3 linked regions of the Homo sapiens genome follow. The protein of the gene in region 2 purifies or fractionates together with the protein of the main gene of each other region. This does not show direct contact. Each region holds a gene or a part of one and is shown on either strand. Other genes may lie near its edges. The genes, in order: INAVA, PYCR3 and PCMT1.

Region 1 (3,746 bases), on a different chromosome or scaffold from region 2:
GCTCCAGTTAGGACACTGAGAGGCCAGGGAAACCAACATGCCCTGGAGAAAGGGGCTTAGAGACAAACCGGAAAAGCACAGCATCCAAGCAGGGTATTCACGCATGGGGGGCAGAGTAGGCCCAAAAGTTGGGGGTTGCTGATGCGGTAAGAGCACAGTGAGAGAAATGCCAGGTGCATCCCTTCAGCCTCCTGCATCCTCCCCCAGGTTCCTTTGATGGGCCATCCTGGGTCTTCCCTTGGCACCCTTGTGCAATCGGCTACATCGTTTTCTTTCCAGTAGAGAGAACTGTGCCTCTTCTAGGTCAGACACCAGAGTTCTTGGAACCTTCTGCTATATTCACAGTCTGTTCCAGTCCAGGTAACATGGGGGCAGAGAGTTCTGCACAGGTGAAGTCAGAACTCAGCTCTCCCTACCTCTCCTAGCCTCAATTCAGTTGCTTTCTCATTGAAGCAGGTCCCCTGACCTGGAAGCAAAGAAGGCCCTAGGATGAGAACCCAGGGACAGCTGGGTGGTCTTAGCACAGGCAGCTTCCAGACTTGCTCCAGTCGCTGCAGCTGGGACAATTAATGAATGCCCCCAAAGAAAATTCAGCATCTCATCAGCCCTTGGGAGTGAGTATGTCCATGTTTGTATAAATAACCACCTTCTCAGAGCAGAAGCATAGCTGGTGGGGGGAGTAGGAACTGTGACTCCCTCTCCCAACCAGAACATGCCACAAAAGTGGTGCCTTTCCAAAACCACTTGTAAAGTATTGGTTTTTGGGACTATGATGAAAAAACGTTAGAAGGGCCAGGTGCGGTGGCTCATGCCTGTAATCCCAGCACTTTGAAAGGCCAAGGCAGGTGGATCACTTGAGGTCAGGAGTTCGAGACCAGCCTGGCCAACATGATGAAACCCCATCTCTACTAAAAATAAAAAATTAGCAGGCATGGTGGTGCTTGCCTGTAATCCCAGCTACTCGGAAGGCTGAGGCAGGAGATTCGCTTGAACCCGGGAGACGGGGGTTGCAGTGAGCCGAAATCTTGCTACAGCATTCCAGCCTGGGCGACAGAGCGAGACTCCATCTCAAAAACAAACAAAATGTTAGAAGGAGCAGTGGGGCTGCAAGCCCTTGAGATGCCCAGAGGTAGCTGTCAAAGGGTGGCTGCTGTCCACTAACCACAAGCATGGACCAGCCCCCAGCCAGACCCCCTGAGGCTACAAACTGTGATGCCACTGACTCAAAGCTCAGGGGTCTGGGAGCCCACAGGGCATAGACAGGGTATAGTGACTGGGTCCCTAAAGAGGATTTAGGGGGTCAGGAAAATAGCAGGGTCTAGCAAGACAATACACCACCGGGATATACTGACCTTTGACCTACCACTTGGTGTGTGCATCACAGAGCACATTAGAAAAGGGGGAAGAGATTCTCCCCCAGCCCAGGCTGGGGTACCCAGAGACCTGGGAAATGGGGGAGAGTCATGTGCATGAGTATGTACCATGTCCAGCCTCCAGCAATAGTGGGACAGGAGGGCCAGGGGCAGTTCCCCAGGGAATTTCTTAGAACCAGAGCACAGAGCGTTGGAGAACTCCCAAGGTGGCTCACTCTGCTTCACTCGTCCCCTGCCACTTGTCTTATATAAGGAGATAGAGGCTGTCAGTCAGACAGGCAAGGCCTTAAGTCCAGTAGGCCAAACTCTGGGGGATAAAACATAATCATATCACAGGGGTATTGAGGACAATCCACATATATAAATCCTTAGGTCAGGGCTTCTGAAAAAAGTCGTGTAAAAAAAAAATAATAAAAGGTCTCAGCTCCAGGTCATCGGCCTGCGATGGGGATGGGGGAGCTGAAAGAGGCACTCAGGGGTGGGGGGGTCTCAGCCCAGCCCCTCTATGAAACAGTTTTTTCCAGCGTGGGGCGCAGAGTTACACCTGGCTGATGATCTCTCCTTTTTCAGGTACAAAGACTTGCACAGGGGCCCCATCAGGCGATCTCCGCAGCACACAAACTGTGGGCACCTGCCAGGGTCAGGAAGAAAGGACAGGTGGGTAAATGAACCAGGCAGAAAAGCGGGGACAGCAGGCACAGTTACACCATCCTTATCCCTTAGGGACACTGACCAGCAGAAGCAGCAGCAGCAGCAGGCCCTGGCACTCAGCCCCTTCCTCCCAGGATGCTCTCTGTTCTTCAGGGACCCCCTTTACACATTTTCCTCCATGTTCTTTTGGGGTGTGACAGGCGCCCTGACCTCCTCCTCCCCCACCTTTCCTGGGCTCACTTCTCATCACCCTCCCTGTCTGGCACGTTGGGATGGGCTGGGTCTATCCAGCCAAGGACAGGCCCAAGCGCGCAGAAAGGGAAAAGCACGTCAGCTGGAGGGCGCGGCCTCGGACCGGGGCCAGGGTGCTGCCAGGCCCAGGATGCCAGCTGCAGTCCAAAGAACCGTGGGTGGGGGAGGGACACGCAGCTGGGTCTGCTGGGAATCTGGGGTCTCAAAGAAGCAGCTTGTTGGTAACTTCTGGAGCACATCACCTGCAGAGCCCTCCGTACCAGGGAGAAAGAATAAAGAAAGGATTCCTGTGTGTGGCTCCCCACTTCCAGAATGAAGAAATAGGGGCCAAGGAAACCAAGGCTGCCACCCTACCCAGTGTCAGGGTGCTCTATCCTATATACTACCCTCCAGCCTGCTCCCTGGCCTCTGTGGCCCCAGATGATAATAATATCACATATCTAGCGCTTACCATGCATTGCTCTAATCATTTCAGCCTCTTGGCAGCCCTATGAGATAGGTACTCTACTACTCTCATTTCACAGGGGAGGAAACACTAGGTCCAAAGGGGTTAAGTAACTTGCCCAATCATACAGCTCGTAAGTGGCAGAACTGGGATTTGAACCTGGTGGTCTAGCTTGAGGGTGGGTGCTCTTAACTCTGATGCCACCCTTCTTCTCGGCTTGGTGGTGAGGAGGGGTGTCAGGGAGGATGCTGATGCCCAGAAAATCACAGGTTCTGGCTTCTGCAACTCATTTCCTACTCTCCCTTTGTCCTAGACCTTCAAATGGAAATCTGAGGGGCTGATTTGGACTGGACTTTTGATTATGAAGAGGCTTATCTGCTTTGTGCATCATCATTTAGGGAGAGAAAAAGTCTCAGCTATCTTCGGGGATCATCTCCACCAGTGTATATGCTCTTGAGCTAGACATGGCAGGCAAAATTAGGAGGTGCCCCAGGGAAGCCAAGAGTGCCTTCCAAAGCCAAGAGGAAATGATTTTTTGGCCTGTTCTTCCTAGACGGGGATTACCCGGCCACTAGGTTGCTGCTTTGATGCCTCTGTACCCTTGGACATACTAGAATTGCAGCCCCTCCCCAACAAAACAGCCCTCCTGCCTGGCCCCGGGGTCCCTCCAGAGCAGCCGTACCTGTGCCCGGGGTCCCAGGGCTCGTCCGAAGCCCTCTCTCCCAAGGGGCAGGCTCCTGACCCGGAAAGCTCCTTGGCGGTCCAGTGAGTGGGGGCGGGTGCTCCGGAGGCGTGCACGCTCGTGCCACCACTTGAGCTCCTCGGACACGGCGGCCTTGCTGAGCCCCCGGCCTGCCGGGCTGTCCTTCAGGGAGGGCGTCCGCACGATGCGGCTGCGGGAGGGCACCAGACGCTGGTAGCGCAGGGGAGTGCCCTCCTCCTCGTAAGCAGGGCCCGGGGCTGCGCGGCGCAGCTCCCACTCGCCAGGCGGCAGGGGGCTCTCAGCCACCACCACGTACCGCCCC
Region 2 (3,746 bases):
CCAGTCCTACAGACTCCCTGATTCTGACCTCTCTCTGGCCAGCTGCTGCCCCCAAACACACGGGTGCTGCGGGTCTTGCCCAACCTGCCCTGTGTGGTCCAGGAAGGGGCCATAGTGATGGCGCGGGGCCGCCACGTGGGGAGCAGCGAGACCAAGCTCCTGCAGCATCTGCTGGAGGCCTGTGGGCGGTGTGAGGAGGTGCCTGAAGCCTACGTCGACATCCACACTGGCCTCAGTGGCAGTGGCGTGGCCTTCGTGAGTATTGCCTCGTCCATCCCCGGCCCCACCCTCGGCAAAGAGGGGGCCCACCCCAGTCCCTCTGACAGCCTCTGCCCTCAGAGTCCAACCTTGAGGCCTGCGTGGTTGCTCCCCAGGCCCACTGGGAGCTCTGCTTGTCCCCGGGACTTCACTGCCTTGGGGATCTTTGAGGCCAGCCCCTTTGCAGACCGTTGGGCTCAGGCCTTGGTTCTGGCCACCCACGGCTACTGCTCTGGGCATTGTTCCTGAAGGTCCTGAGCCCCCAGGCTTTGACACCTATCCCCCCCAACCACCATGCCGCGGCTACAGGTGTGTGCATTCTCCGAGGCCCTGGCTGAAGGAGCCGTCAAGATGGGCATGCCCAGCAGCCTGGCCCACCGCATCGCTGCCCAGACCCTGCTGGTGAGTGAGGGTGGCCCCTGGGGAACATCGGGAAGGCCCAGGCCTGTACCTCTTCCAGTGCGCAGGGAAACAGCAGGCTCGAGAAGCTGGGGCCAAGGTTGGGGGATGCAACGAGGGCAGGCCGCACAGTGGGGACCGCACCACCTCCCCCCGTCACCAGGCCCTAACGCTCTCCTCAGGGGACGGCCAAGATGCTGCTGCACGAGGGCCAACACCCAGCCCAGCTGCGCTCAGACGTGTGCACCCCGGGTGGCACCACCATCTATGGACTCCACGCCCTGGAGCAGGGCGGGCTGCGAGCAGCCACCATGAGCGCCGTGGAGGCTGCCACCTGCCGGGCCAAGGAGCTCAGCAGAAAGTAGGCTGGGCTCTGGCCATCCTTTCCTGCCTCTGTGCCCCTGCCTCTCCCTGTGTCCCTTCCCCTGAGGACTGCGGCTCCCTCCCTCCTGCATGAGGGTCTCCTACTGCTCCTTCTCCCCTTGCACAGGGAAATGCAGGGGGCAGGACTTGGGAGGTTCCAGCAGGCGGGGGAGCCCCGACCAGTGGGGACACTCCTCCCTCCCCAGTGAGCAGAAGGCACCGTGGTGGTGGCTCTGCCCCTTGCTGCAGTGAGCCCACCTTGCTGCAACATTGGTTCTGAGGGGCCCAAGAGATGGCGTCTTGGTCATTTGCCCGCATGGTTGGGCAGTTGGTTGAGGCCATGAACAGAACTTACGGTAACAGGCACGGCTGGCCCAATGCCTGGTCTGGAGCTGGAGCTTGCCTTTGGCTTTCCAGGTGGCTCCGTGCAGCTACAGCCAGGCCGGCTGCCTCATCTCAGCTCTAGGGGGCACGAGCCATATGGGGTCTGCACAAGAGACCCTCTCCCCTGCAGTAAAGCCAGGGGCCCTGGCCTGATGGGGCCCCCATGGGGAGCTGGAGCCTGCCCTGCAGCCTGGAGAAGAGGGTGGCTGTGGTGGGCGTGCTCATCCCCTGCTAAGGAGCAGGAGCTGCTGGGCCAGGTCTGCGGCAGTGCTGGGGTGGCACCAGGTGGGCAGTGGTAGGTGGGGTGGCTTGAGGTCTGGGAGGGTGGCCCTGGCCAGCCAGGACACATGCAGACCCCTGGCTTTAGTCTGGATACAGGCTCCCTCTTTCCTCCCAATCCTAAGCTCCTGACAAGTGGCCAGGTGGCTCTGGGCCCTCCTGCCCCGTGCCTAGGTCAGGGGTCCTGGAATACCCCGTAGCTCTGGCACCACCACACTGGCCTCTGATGGCAAGACTTGGCCCCTCCACCTGTCCCTAACGGACGGCAGGTCAGGAAAGCCAGGACTCAGGGGAGAAGCAAACCCCCAGGATTGAAGGCTAGGGTTCTAGGGCCTTTGGGTGGGGAGGGCCCGGGCCGGACAGCCTCAGCTCCGTCCCCTGCCCCACAAGATTCACCTGGGCCTCCAGTCCCACGCTGGCCCCAACTGCTGCAGCTCTCGGCTTCCGCCCAACAGCCTCTGGAGGTGAGGCGGGAGCATGCCCTCAGCGAGGCTGGGCGGCGGGTCCTGCTGTGCCATCTCCCTGTGCGCCTGAGCAGATCAATCCACCAGTGCAAAACAGGGCTAACGGCACCTGCAGGACAGCAGCACGCTCCATCCCTCATGCTCAGCTGCCTCTGCGGCCACGGACTTCTGCCCTTCATCTGCTCTCTCTTACTCTCCTGAGCCTAGCCCGTCCGTAAGCTCCCTCCCCTGCCTGGTTCCCAGGGCAGGCTGACTCAGTTGACTGCTTGGTCCAAGCCTGGCCCTGGCACTTGTCAGGGTCAGCCTAAGGAGATGGGAATAAAGAGGCCAGAGAGCACCAAGTGAGCTCATGTTTCACCAGAGGTGGATAAAACCAAGTTCTGGGCTGGGCCCAGTGGCTCACATCTGTAATTCCAGCACTTTGGGAGGCCGAGGCGGGCAGATCACAAAGTCAGGAGTTTGAGACCAACCTGACCAACATGGAGAAACCCCATCTCTACTAAAAATACAAAATTAGCTGGATGTGGTGGTGCGTGCCTGTAATCCCAGCTACTTGGGAGGCTGAGGCAGGAGAATTGCTTGAATCCAGGAGGCGGAGATTGCAGAGAGCCAAGATCATGCCACTGCACTCCAGCCTGGGTGACAGCAAGACTCTGTCTTGGAAAAAAAAAAAAAGAAGGTCCAATGCCTGCCCCATAAGTTGAGGCCTGGAACCTTGGTCAAGCACAGGTGTCAGCCGAAGGGGGTGCTGGCACTGTGGACAGCAGAGGTCTCCCCATGCCTGCTACAGGCCTCTACATCACCTGGGGGCTTTGTAGGGCATGGAATTGCAGTTTCCCCTGCACGCTGTCACCCCAGGGGACTGTATGCCAAGCCTGGGCAGGCCTGGGAGCCTGGGGTCTGGTGCAGGCGGCCCCCTGAAGGAAGGTGGACAGCCCTTCTGACGGCCACCTGCATTCACACCAAGCCCATCTGCAAGGAGAAATCATTGACTTTGCACCAACACCTGTCTCCCCCTGGGACCTCTGACAAGCCCTGGGCACTAGGTGAGCTCAGCTCGGGAGGTGGAGATCCCAAGCCAGCCACTCCTGGCCCAGCTGGTGAGGGCCTGTGACAAAGACACGGGCTCAGTTCTCGGCACGGCAGGGAGCGTTGTGGTGAGCCAGGCCTCCCCTGTGCCTTCTACTTCCAGGTGAAAACTGTTCTTCAAGACAGAAAACGATGGATATGATTACGGTATCTTTGATCAATGTTCCACTTTTATGCCCTATGCCCCAACTGTTAATCTAGGGGGTATTCCTGATCCAAGCGTTGGATCAAGAGTTTAAAAATAAGACTTCAAAACAGGGATGCTCATGAAGTGGACATGTCCAGCCTTTATTAGATAAAGCCACTGGGCCCATCTGACCAGGCGAGCTCAGCTGTAAACAAGCTCGCCAGTTAGAGGAAGGGCCCTCAACAGAGCATGACCCCACAAGCCTAGGGACTCCGACATGCTGTTGGGGCTGCTCCCCATGGGTGTCTCAACTAGGTAGGTAAGGGGTTGGGGTCTCTGCAGGACCCCCCCGTCTGGGGGTGCTCCCCTTCCTTTCCTACCAC
Region 3 (3,746 bases), on a different chromosome or scaffold from region 2:
CTCCTGACCTTGTGATCTGCCCGCCTTGGCCTCCCAAAGTGCTGGGATTACAGGCGTGAGCCACTGCGCCCAGCCTAAAAGCAGGTATACATTTAATGTTTAGCAGATGACTAATTGTCCATAAATTTAAAAATTATTCTAAATATATTTTTTAAAGATAAGGTCTTGCTCTGTTGCCCAGCCTGGAATGCTGTGGTGATCACAGCTCACTGCCGCTTCTGGGCTTAAGTGATCCTCTTATCTCAGCCTCCCAAGTAGCCAGAACTAGAGGTGCACACCACTACGCCTGGCTAGTTCTTAAATTTTTAGTAGATACGAGGTCTCACTATGTTTCCCAGGCTTCTCTTGAACTTCTGGCCTCAAGTGATCCTCCCACCTCAACCTCCCAAAGCATTGGGATTACAGGCATAAGCCACCATACCTGGCCCTATTTTAAATTTCTTAATACAAATAGTTTGGTTTTATCAAAGGTGGATTCAGGTTTTGTGGGGGCCTAAGGTTTATATAATTAGAAAACAGGGGAACCTTTTTATGAAGTTAAAAAAAAAATCAGTAAGACTATGCATAATATAAAATTAAGAACAGGGCCAGGCATGGTGGCTGACACCTGTAATCCTAGCACTTTGGGAGGCCGAGGCGGGCAGATCACCTGAGGTCAGGAGTTCGAGACCAGCCTGGCCAACATGGTGAAACCCCTTCTCTACTAAAAATACAAAATTTAGCTGGGCGCCTATACTCTCAGCTACTTGGGAAGCTGAGGCAGGAGAATTGCTTGAACCTGGGAGACGGAGGTTGTAGTGAGCTGAGATTGCACCACTGCTCTACACAGCCTGGGTAACAGAGCAGGACTCCGTCTCAAAAAAAACACTTTTTTAAATTAAATTAAATTAAGAACAGGGTCAGAGAAAACCTAGACAAGCAAGGGCTCTGCAGCTTCAGCTTTGTTAGCTTCACAGTAAATCTACCTCTAGTCATAAAAACAAAATTCCCTTTTTATAATTCCTTCATAATTATAAATTATAAATTATAGGCAAGATGTTCAACACTAATATTTATTGTATATAAAAAGAAAAATTTCTAAGTTGCTAATGAAAATCAACTCTTCTTATCAAATTTCAGTAATTTCAGTAACATATTTGCCCCTTTTATACTACAATAATCTCACAATTATGTAATTGTATAAACCATACTAGAAGCAAAGTGAAGGAAGGTTTTAGTTAGTTGTTAATAACTACATCTGATTCCAGTTGAAAAAACCAGTAATTTTTTAAATGCCTTTTTAATTTTTTTTTTTTTTTTTTTTTTTGAGACAGAGTCTCGCTCTGTCACCCAGGCTAGAAGGCAGTAGTGTGATCTCGACTCACTGCAACCTCTGCCTCCTGGGTTCAAACAATTCTCCTGCCTCAGCCTCCTGAGTGCCTGGGACTACAGATGCAAGCCAACATGCCCAGCTAATTTTTGTGTTTTTAGTAGAGACAGGGTTTCACCATGTTGGCCAGGCTGGTCTCAAACTCCTGACTTAAGATGATTGGCTCACCTCAGCCTCCCAAAATGCCTGGACTAAAATGCTTTTTTTTTTTTTTTTTTTTCCAGTGGCTGTGCTCCACGTATAATTCACAGAAAATAGCTATTGGTGAAGAATAAAAACAACATTGAGAGATCTATTAAACTTATTATCACCCCTTTTACTTATTAAGAAACTAATTATTTTAAAATAAGAATCTTTATGTCAAATAAAAATAAGATGCTAAGACAAGGAAACTGTAAAGCCGTTCTTGTTTTGGCATTTAATTTCAAGTAATTTGAGCTAATGGCACTGTTATGTACTGATGTCACTCTCTCTCATGGAAGGGAGTGGGAAGGGGAGGAAAAGAGAAATCTTGGCTTCAAACAAAATATTCAGATTATGCTGAGACATAAAACAAAAGTGGACATTCTTTATAAACCATGCTGTGCTGAAAGTTGCTGCATGCTGCTGACCCTCTGGGTGGGTTTGTGAGACCTGGGCACTCATTGGGTAACTTGTAGAATCCTTGCCTCTTCCTAGGAATTTAGCCAGAATAGCTTAAACAGTGGCTGGCCTATTCTATAGAATGGGGAGAAGGTGACTCTTAAACAAGGCTGAATGAAAAATAGGCATGGGCTGTCAGGTATCTATGATTTGGTTGAAACAGATAAACCAAGCTGAGAGGTAGAATGTCCTCTCTGGTATTCTGACATTTTAGAAAACTGAGACGACCGTTATCTTTCCCCTTCTTTCTCCTTGTTGGTACAATAAACAGGGCAGGAAATGATGGCCCCTTGTTTTTTTTTTTTTTTTTTTTTTTTTTTTTTGAGACAGAGCCTTGCTCTGTCTCCCAGGCTGGAGTGCAGTGTCAAAATCTCGGCCCACTGCAACCTCCGCCTCCAGGGTTTAAGCAATTCTCCTGGCTCAGCCTCCCGAGTAGCTGGGATTACAGGCCTGTGCCATCACGCCCAGCTGATTTTGTATTTTTAATAGAGACGGGGTTTCACCATGTTGGCCAGGCTAGTCTCAAACTCCTGACCTCAAGTGATCCGCCCACCTAGGCCTCCCAAAGTGCTGGGATTACAGGCATGAGCCACTCCGCCTGGCCTCTTTTACAGACCAAACTCATTGTTTCCATGCCCATCCAGTGCTATAAAAATAATTTAAAAACATAAAAACAGAGTGGCTGATAATGAAGAAAAAATCCTTACAAAGTACTGAATTGAAGCTGAAAGTCTCTCTAAAAAAAAAACAAACAAACAAACAAAAAAAGCCTTTGTGCCAACCAAGTCTCACCCTCCCTTTCCCAAAGATATATATGTTAAACCAAAATAAGGGCAGACCATGCAACATTTTTCACATTTTTAATGTAATGAATTTCTGACGTTATAATGGAGGAGCATAAAGGTGACAACCAAAAACAGCTCTTGTAGTCTAATGTCTTAAAATCCACACCCTTTCACCTTGCATGTGTGGAAGAAGAAAGAGCAGAAGATAAAATCACTTCCACCTGGACCACTGCTTTTCTTTATCTGTTAAAGGCACGTATATCACCCCCATCAGAGGCTTCATTTTGATGCTGCCATCTTGTAGCTTGTCATACTGCTCCAACATTTGGTTTCCGCCTGCAGGACCAACAGGCAATATCAATCTTCCTCCGGGCTTTAACTGATCTATTAGCTAAAAGAAAAAAAAAAAAGCACATACATCACCAAGTTACAGATTTTATTTTATTTTATTTATTTATTTTTGAGACAGGGTCTCACTCTGTCGCCCAGGCTGGAGTGCAATGACACGATCTCAGCTCACTGCAACCTCTGCCTCCCAGGTTCAAGTGATTCTCCTGCCTCAGTCTCCCAAGTAGCTGGGACTACAGGCACACGCCACCATGCCCAGCTAATTTTTGTATTTTTAGTAGAGACAAGGTTTCACCATATTGGCCACACTGGTCTCGAACTCCTAACCTCAAGTACTCCACCCACCTCGGCTTCCCAAAGTGCTTGGATTACAGGCGTGAGCTACTGTGCCCGGCCCAGATTTTATATTAATAGTCATTTGACATCATTATAAACAACTTTTAGTGTCCATAGGCAGAAAGCAGAAACGTTCTTTATTTAGTATATACAAATTAAGGCCAGACACGGTGGCTCACGCCTGTGATCCCAGCACTTTGGGAGGCCAAGGTGGGCAGATCACTTGAGGTCAAGAGTTCAAGACCAGCCTGGCCAACACAGTGAAA

Evidence for each region.
Region 1: the proteins of PYCR3 (region 2) and INAVA purify together in Homo sapiens (co-immunoprecipitation; 2 studies listed by BioGRID and IntAct, with this or other methods). This does not show direct contact.
Region 3: the proteins of PYCR3 (region 2) and PCMT1 purify together in Homo sapiens (affinity purification with mass spectrometry; 3 studies listed by BioGRID and IntAct, with this or other methods). This does not show direct contact.

The regions. Positions count from the first base shown.
Region 1 is NC_000001.11:200,911,795-200,915,540, reverse strand, and holds part of INAVA (innate immunity activator protein), read right to left. Parts: coding exon 3,404-3,746; intron 2,005-3,403; coding exon 1,912-2,004; 3' UTR 1-1,911. UniProt on the Homo sapiens protein: Expressed in peripheral macrophages and intestinal myeloid-derived cells, is required for optimal PRR (pattern recognition receptor)-induced signaling, cytokine secretion, and bacterial clearance.
Region 2 is NC_000008.11:143,602,976-143,606,721, reverse strand, and holds the end of PYCR3 (pyrroline-5-carboxylate reductase 3), read left to right. Parts: intron 1-42; coding exon 43-255; intron 256-567; coding exon 568-660; intron 661-839; coding exon 840-1,022; 3' UTR 1,023-3,512; downstream 3,513-3,746.
Region 3 is NC_000006.12:149,801,641-149,805,386, reverse strand, and holds part of PCMT1 (protein-L-isoaspartate(D-aspartate) O-methyltransferase), read right to left. Parts: intron 3,188-3,746; coding exon 3,008-3,187; 3' UTR 2,971-3,007; exon of another isoform or gene 2,856-2,970; intron 2,263-2,855; exon of another isoform or gene 1,594-2,262; intron 85-1,593; exon of another isoform or gene 48-84; intron 1-47. UniProt on the Homo sapiens protein: Initiates the repair of damaged proteins by catalyzing methyl esterification of L-isoaspartyl and D-aspartyl residues produced by spontaneous isomerization and racemization of L-aspartyl and L-asparaginyl residues in aging peptides and proteins.